Linked DNA regions of Homo sapiens: region 1 is linked to region 2. The links come from fine-mapping of genetic effects on gene expression. A gene starts in region 2. The other region holds a variant in brackets. All regions are shown on one strand. Distances are from middle to middle. Region 1 has its middle 29 kb from the start of LINC02071. Region 2 holds the start of UTP18 (UTP18 small subunit processome component).

Region 1 (4,262 bases), 46 kb before region 2:
GGATGAAGCTGACTTCATCGTTGTGGATAAGCTTTTTGATGAGCTGCTGGATTTGGTTTGCCAGTATTTTACTGAGTATTTTCACATTGACGTTCATCAGGGATATTGGTTTAAAATTCTTGGGGGACTCCCTCTTTTTCTATTGATTGGAATAGTTTCAGAAGGAATGGTACCAGCTCCTCTTTGTACCTCTGGTAGAATTTGGCTGTGAATCCATCTGGTCCTGGACTTTTTTTGGTTGGTAAGCTATTAATTATTGCCTCAATTTCAGAGCCTGTTATTGGTCTATTCAGAGATTCAACTTCTTCCTGGTTTACTCTTGGGAGGATGTATGTGTCCAGGAATTCATCCATTTCTTCTAGATTTTCTAGTTTATTTGTGTAGAGGTGTTTATAGTATTCTCTGATGGTAATTTGTATTTCTGTGGGACTGGTGATGACATCCCCTTTATCATTTTTTATTGTGTCTATTTGATTATTTGATTCCTGGTGATATCCCCTTTATCATTTTTTATTGTGTCTATTTGATTCTTCTCTCTTTTCTTCTTTATTAGTCTTGCTAGCAGTCTATCAATTTTGCTGATCTTTTCTAAAAAACAGCTCCTGGATTCATTGATTTTTTTGAAGGGTTTTTTGTGTGTCTATCTCCTTCAATTCTTCTCTGATCTTAGTTATTTCTTGCCTTCTGCTAGCTTTTGAATTTGTTTGCTCTTGCAGATTCTCTAGTTCTTTTAATCGTGATGTTAGGGTGTCGATTTTAGATCTTTCCTGCTTTCTCTTGTGGGCATTTAGTGCTATAAATTTCCCTCTACACACTGATTTAAATGTGTCCCAGAGATTCTGGTATGTTGTGTCTTTGCTCTCATTGGTTTCAAACAACATCTTTATTTCTACCTTCATTTCATTATTACCCAGTAGTCATTCAGGAGCAGGTTGTTCAGTTTCCATGTGGTTGTGCGGTTTTGAGTGAGTTTCTTAATCCTGAATTCTAGTTTGATTGCACTGTGGTCTGAGAGACAGTTTGTCATAATTTCTGTTCTTTTACATTTGCTGAGGAGTGCTTTACATCCAACTACGTGGTCCATTTTGGAATAAGTGCGATGTGGTGCTGAGAAGAGTGTATATTCTGTTGATTTAGAGGGGAGAGTTCTGTAGATGTCTATTAGGTCTGCTTGGTGCAGAGCTGAGTTCAAGTCCTGGATATCCTTGTTAACCTTCTGTCTCATTGATCTGTTTAATATTGACAGTGGGGTGTTAAAGTCTCCCATTATTATTGTGTGGGAGTCTAAGTCTCTTTGTAGGTCTCTAAGGACTTGCTTTATGAATCTGGGTGCTCCTGTATTGGGTGCATATATATTTAGGAAAGTTAGCTCTTCTTGTTGAATTGATCCCTTTACCATTATGAAATGCCCTTCTTTGTCTTTTTTGATCTTTGTGGGTTTAAAGCCTGTTTTATCAGAGACTAGTATTGCAACCCCTGCCTTTTTTTCCTTTCCATTTGCTCGGTAGATCTTCCTCCATCCCTTTATTTTGAGCCTATATGTGTCTCTGCACGTGAGATGGATCTCCTAAATACAGCACACTGATGGGTCTTGTCTCTTTATCCAATTTGCCAGTCTGTGTCTTTTAATTGGGGCATTTAGCCCATTTACATTTAAGGTTAATATTGTTATGTGTGAATTTGATCCTGTCATTATGATGTTAGCTAGTTATTTTGCCCATTAATTGATGCAGTTTCTTCATACCATTGATGGTCTTTACAATTTGGCATGTTTTTGCAGTGGCTGGTACCGGTTGTTCCTTTCCATGTTTAGTGCTTCCTTCAGGAGCTCTTGTAAGGCAGGCCTGGTAGTGACAAAAATCTCTCAGCATTTGCTTGTCTGTAGAGGATTTTATTTATCTTTCATTTATGAAGCTTAGTTTGGCTGGATATGAAATTCTGTGTTGAAAATTCTTTCCTTTAAGAATGTTGAATATTGGCCCCCACTCTCTTCTGGCTTGTAGAGTTTCTGCCAAGAGATCCGCTGTTAGTCTGATGGGCTTCCCTTTGTGGGTAACCCGACCTTTCTCTCTGGCTGCCTTTAACATTTTTCTCTTCATTTCAACCTTGGTGAATCTGACAATTATATGTCTTCGGGTTGCTCTTCTCGAGGAGTATCTTTTTGGTGTTCTCTGTATTTCCTGAATTTGAATGTTGGCCTGCCTTGCTAGGTTGGGGAAGTTCTCCTGGACAATATCCTAAAGAGTGCTTTCCAACTTGGCTCCATTCCCCCCGTCACTTTCAAGTACACCAATCAAACGTAGATTTGGTCTTTTCACATAGTCCCATATTTCTTGGAGGCTTTGTTCATTTCTTTTTACTCTTTTTTCTCTAATCTTGTCTTCTTGCTTTATTTCATTAATTTGATCTTCAATCACTGACATCCTTTCTTCCACTTGATCGAATCGGCTATTGAAGCTTGTGCA[T/C]GCATCACGAAGCTCTCATGCCATGGTTTTCAGCTCCATCAGGTCATTTAAGGTATTCTCCACACTGTTTATTCTAGTTAGCCATTCCTCTAACCTTTTTTCAAGGTTTTTAGCTTCCTTGCAATGGTTTAGAACATGCTCCTTTAGCTCGGAGAAGTTTGTTATTACCGACCTTCTGAAGCCTACTTCTGTCAACTCATCGAAGTCATTTTCCATCCAGCTTTGTTCTGTTGCTGGTGAGGAGATGCGATCATTTGGAGGAGAACAGGCACTCTGGTTTTTTGAGTTTTCAGCTTTTCTGCTCTGGTTTCTCCCCATCTTTGTGGTTTTATCTACCTTTGGTCTTTGATGTTGGTGACCTACAAATGGGGTTTGGGTGTGGATGTCCTTTTTGTCGATATTTACGCTATTCCTTTCTGTTTGTTAGTTTTCCTTCTAACAGTCAGGTCCCTCAGCTGCAGGTCTGCTGGAGTTTGCTGGAGGTCCACTTCAGACCCTGTTTGCCTGGGTATCACCAGCACAGGCTGTACAACAGTAAATATTGCAGAACAGCAAATATTGCTGCCTGATCCTTCATCTGAAAGATTTGTCCCAGAGGAGCACCCGCCTGTATGAGGTGTCTGTCAGCCCCTACTGGGAGGTGTCTCCCAGTTAGGCTACACAGGGATCAGACATCCACTTGAGGAGGCAGTCTGTCCATTCTCAGAGCTCAAACACCGTGCTGGGAGAACCACTGTTCTCTTCCGAGGTGTCAGACAGGGACGTTTAAGATTGCAGAAGTTTCTGCTGCCCTTTATTCAGCTATGCCCTGCCCACAGAGGTGGAGTCTGTAGAGGCAGTAGGCCTTGCTGAGCTGCAGTGGGCTCCACCCAGTTTGAGTTTCCTGGCCGCTTTGTTTACCTAATCAAACCTCAGCAATGGCGGATACCCCTCTCCCCACCAGCCTGCAGCCTCGCAGATCTATCTCAGACTGCTGCGCTAGCCTTAAGCAAGGCTCCGTGGGTATGAGTCCCACTGAGCCAGGCATGGGAGAGAATCTCCTTGTCTGCCAGTTGCTAAAACTTTGGGAAAAGTGCAGTATTTGGGTGGAAGTGTCCCGTTTTTTCCAGGTACAGTCTGTCACAGCTTCCCTTGGCTAGGAAAGGGAAATCCCCAGACCCCTTGCGCTTCCTGGGTGAGGCAATGCCCTGCCCTGCTTCCGCTCACCCTCCATGGGCTGCACCCACTGTTCAACCAGTACCAGTGAGATGAACTAGGTATCTCAGTTGGAAATGCAGAAATCACCCATCTTCTGTGTCGATCACTCTGGGAGCTGCAGACCAGAGCTGTTCCTATTCAGCCATCTTGGAATGAAAATTAGAGCTTTTATATATTTTTAGTAGTGAAACATTGTGTACACAATACATAATTACATAGACATATTAGGCATACCAGTAGAAGTACATCTTATAGATTCATAAGACCTACTTTTTTTTTTTCCTGTCTTAGACTTGCAAACTCTTCATAACCTGTTTCATTACCCTGGCAGTTGTCAGCTAAATTGCCTTAAATCTGCATATCGAAGGAAACAACTCTTAGGTGAAAAATCAGGTAACAAAATTTACATCTCAAGGTACAGAGAGAAAAAGTCTGGTGTTGCTAGAGGGAGATTAAAGATGGATGCCAAATCAAACATAAAATTATAGAAATCTATCATAGGATTGTATAAGGAAACCAATTTTATTTAGATACGGACTATCTGCCTTTTAAGTGGATCTCTGATCTCTGGGCAGAGCCCACACTGAATCCTGGATCTCC
Region 2 (4,262 bases):
CGCAGGAAGGAAAACACCAAGTAAGACAAGAACAAAAGATGAGTCTGCAGATGAAAAAAGGAGGAGAAATGTCAGAACTACAGAAATTACAGGACCGGAGGCAAACTAGAGTCAAAGATATCTCCATTTTCCCAATCTGTTTTTGACCCCCTACCTCCTTAAGAAACTTTATACCAGCAGAGAGCGCAATGCCTCATGCCTGTAATCCCAACACTTTGGGAGGTCAAGGTGGGAGGACTGCTTGGGCCCAGGAGTTCGAGTCCAGCCTGGGCAACATAGGGAGATCTCGTCTCTACAGAAAATTTTTAAATTTAGCTGGGTGTGTGGTGTGCACCTGTGGCCCCAGCTAACTACTTGGGAGGCAGAGGCAGGAGGATCACTTGAGCCTAGGAGGATGAAGCTGACTTCTGAGTTTAAAGTGTTCGGAGAATTGTGCAGGTGTAATTTATCTGTGACCAACAAGAAGAGCAACCAGTTACTATTAGCAAAAGGGAGATGGAAGACTAATAGGTGCCGCTACACTCCAGTCTGGGTGACAAAGTTAGACCGTATCTCTAAATAAGTAAAAAATAAATATACCATTAAATCTAAATTCTAAAGTTATAAATTTATACCATAAAGTTTATACTATCAAATCTAAACCTAGGCCGGGTGCGGTGGCTCACACTTGTAGTCTCAGCACTTTGGGAGGCCGAGGCGGGCGGATCACGAGGTCAGGAGTTTGAGACCAGCCTGGCGAAGATGGTGAAACCCCGTTTCTACTAAAGATACAAAAAAAAATTAGCCAGGCGTGGTGGCGCACGCCTGTAATGCCAGCTACTCCAGAGGCTGAGGCAGGAGAATCGCTTGAACCCAGGAAGTGGAGGTTGCAGTGAGCCGAGATGGCGCCACTGCACTCCAGCCTGGGCGACAGGGCGAGTCTAAAAAAAAAAAAAAATCTAAACCTAGACCACAGAATATCCCTTGAAGTGAGTTTGAGCTTCCCAAAACCAATGATAGAAATGTCCAAGTGGTTTCTACTTGCTCTACTACTAGTCTAATAGCCTTCAAACCCAACAGCTCCCACCTCCGTACACTGTTCCTTTTCCAGACGACAAAACCGTCGCACAGTTCAGCATGTTTCCAGTAATAGTTCTGTACTTCCCAAAAAGATTGCTGCCACTTCTCCTACAAGCACCCGAAGGCGGCTCTGGTAAGCAGCTGACATTAACTAGGTCAGCATTTGTGTAATAAACATGGCCTGGGTAATTCTCGGTGAGCTTTCCTCTGCCCCCTTTATCTAAAATTTCACAGGCCTCTACACACGCCCATCTCCCTTTCCCGAATGTCCTTTTTTCTCTTCAGCACTTGTCACCAACAAACCTGAAGTTTACTCGTTTATCTCCTCTATCTTGTCTCTGCCACTAGCACACAAGCGCCAAAAGGCAGGGATTTTTGTCAGTTTTGTCCATTGCTGTGTCTCCTCCAGTGCCTAGAACAATGTCCGGGACTCTCTCAAGAAAAGCCTGGTATAGAATTTAAAGGGATAGCAAAATGTGTGCAAAAAGTATGATCAATCACGCAGGGTTTGCCATTGCCAGAAAGGGTATCTGGCAACTAACAGGTTCACCAATATTTGCTAAATGAACGGAATACACGATCATTCTCAAAACATGGTGGGTCTCATAGTCACATGGGGACATAGTTACAACGGAGATGCCCAGGCCCGTGCCCACGAATTGATTCCATCAACGAAATCGAATTCCTGAATCACAAGGAACTGAGGCAGGTGATCAAAAGACCACCCTCAGTTTGGGAAGAGGCTAGCGGAGTCGAGCAGCAGCGAAAGATGCTCACGACCACAGTTCGCAAAGCAGATACCCGAGCAGCGGCGCCTCCAGGGGCGGAGAAAGACGCGGTCCCCGCCCTCCAGGCACTTTCAGTCTGGAGCAGGGAGGCGAGGGACCCGCAGCTGCGACCCTCCGCGCCCGCGTTCTCGGGCTCCCTCCCACCTGAGCGCTCCCCGCCGCCGCAGGTCGCCCAGGCTCCGCCCCCCGGAGCTTCACCGCCCACCGCGCGCCCCGCCCGAGTGCGCCCAGCCCGCGCGCCGCGGCCTCCCTCACCCTCGGGCCTCGCAGACGCCGCAGCAACGCGTCCTCGTCGTTCTCGACGTCGCCGAAGACCAGCTCCTCCAAGCACCGCTCCACGGCCGGTTTGTCCTCCTCCAGCCTCAGGCGGTTCCGCTGCCGGAGCCGTCTCTCTTCCTCCGCCGCCGCGACTGCAATCGCAGCGGCCGCCGCGCTCGGCCGGGCCGGCGGTTTCCGCTGGGATGAAGGGGCAGGCTTTTGGGGAGGCCCGCCTGGCCCCGCTCCGGCTTTCCAGTCCGGCCTCATTCCGGGCTTCCGCTTCGGCTTCGCTCCGGTTCTCCGGTCCAGTTTCATTCGTCTCCTCCGCTCCGGCGGCATCGTTAGGTTTGAGGAGAAACGCAGGCGCTCACGTGGAACCTCGCTGCGCATGCGCCCAGGCCCCTCGCGGGCCGCCGCCGCCGAAGCCCCGGGGGCCGGAAGGAGCCTGCGCAGCCTCTTGCCACGTGACCAGCACTCCCTCCCTCTACGTAACTCCCGCTCCCCTACCCAGCCCCGCCCCGTGTGGGAGTTCCTCCGGGAGGGCCAATCTTCCGGGTGTAGGGGGAAGCGGCGTGACTGGAGTGGAAAATTTTTCCAACACAATTTCGCAGCTGCAACATATTGAAAGGAGCGCAAGAAACCCCGACTATACACTGGGACGGCTGAATGGAACTTCTGCTTTTCCTCTTGGCTGTAACCACTTGACTTGACACAAGCCCCAATACGCTTTCCACCCTTCGTCTTGGTACGGTCCTTGGAGTACGGAGCCTGCAGAGGGTCCCACGGTGGAAGCGAGAGAGGAGGGTATGTAGGGAAGTGGGCCAATCGGGGCGCGGGTCACGGCGCAGGCGCGCTGGGGAGGGAGGGCTATGCTAATGTTGTTGATATCCTGGGGCCACCCGAGTTAAAGGGGGGAAATCCGGGGGCTGCTGCACCCGCCACCGGTCTGGGCCCAGCCGGGGGCCCCCTGTAGTCGCCGCAGTCCCGGGGAGAGGCACCTGCCCCCAGCCCGGGGAGGGGGCGCCGCGGGCTCGGGGAGCACGGACAACCCCTACCCATGAGGCCCTGATGGAAAACACAAAGGATCTGGTGAGAGCCGAGCGCGGCAGCCGCTTTGTGTGCCAGGTGGGGGGGACGCCTGCAGCTCTCCGACCCCAGGAACCCCGCAGCTCCCTGACCCCGCTCCCTGGCCTGCTTCTCCATCCCACGCCCTCTCAACCTCCGGAGCCCCCCTCCCCCTTCCAGCCGTTAAACGATTCAGGGGTTCCCCTCCCCCCACCCCGTCAGCCTTGGACTCGTTGGGGTTCTCTCCATCTCCTCCACCCTTTGGAAGAAAAATTCGAGAAGAAAGTTTTTCTCTGCGTCCTGCCCCCGCCCCCTGCTCTGGCTAGGGGGGAAAGGCTGGATCCGAGACTTTTCCTTTTTTAGCCACCCAGGGTGGGAGAGTGGAGTAGTCCTCTCTTCTTGGCGGGGAGGGGGAGCACAGTTTCGTTGCTTTGCAGGGGAAGGTGTCTATCTGCCTTGGGGGCAGTGCCGCGAGGCGGTTTGCACGTGGAGGTGGAAATATTGAAAGGGGGCGGGGTGGGCACGTGCGGGAGAGGTGGGAGTGGTGTTTGGGAAGCAGCCTCCAAGGCTGCATATTTAAAAGGGTTTCAAGTCGGTGGACTTCTGTGACCATTGCGTTCTCCTTTGTGAAATAAGAATCCTAACATTTCAGAGTCGGAAGAGACATTAGAGGTCATCCAAAGCAGCCGTCCCCTCTGCAGCCTCTCTGACAAGTGGTAGGTAGTCTGAACCCTGCTTACACCCCTAAAAGCACTGAGAGCTCACTACTGCCCAGGAAAGCCCATATTTCAGTAGTTCTAATTGTTGTCTGCCTACCCTTATTAGACCCTTCAGTCTCATTCATGTCCTGGTTAAGTTGCTCCTTTTTTTACTTCTCAAATTTTCTCTCACATCCTCCTCACCCACCCACTGCTCATTGGCCTATATTTTGTGTGCCAAGAAAGAACAGCAGGGAAGTGGAGGAAGGGGGGTTGAGAGATAGTGAGGGCTAGCCGAAAACTTTGCTGGGTCAGTGTCAAGTGTGCTGGCTTACATGCCTGAAGATGTTTTTCTACAGGAAGCTAAAGAATTACAATATGGGAATTTCGTGCC

What was found. PIP is the estimated chance that this variant, and not a neighbour inherited with it, causes the effect.
Region 1: its variant is fine-mapped to the expression of UTP18 in whole blood (TOPMed, PIP above 0.99).

The regions. Positions count from the first base shown.
Region 1 is chr17:51,304,502-51,308,763 of GRCh38, reverse strand. No RefSeq gene overlaps it. Among named protein-coding and RNA genes, the nearest start is that of LINC02071, 29 kb to the left of the region's middle. The variant T/C (reference allele first, on the strand shown) is at 2,466.
Region 2 is chr17:51,258,767-51,263,028 of GRCh38, reverse strand. UTP18 (UTP18 small subunit processome component) reads right to left here and starts at 2,483. Exons shown (of 14, transcript NM_016001.3): 1 at 2,103-2,483. The coding sequence starts at 2,444. It overlaps MBTD1 (mbt domain containing 1), which reads left to right and starts at 2,980. Exons shown (of 17, transcript NM_017643.3): 1 at 2,980-3,194; 2 at 3,823-3,886. RefSeq lists an enhancer at 1,413-1,462 and silencers at 1,933-2,122, 2,473-2,582, 2,923-3,242.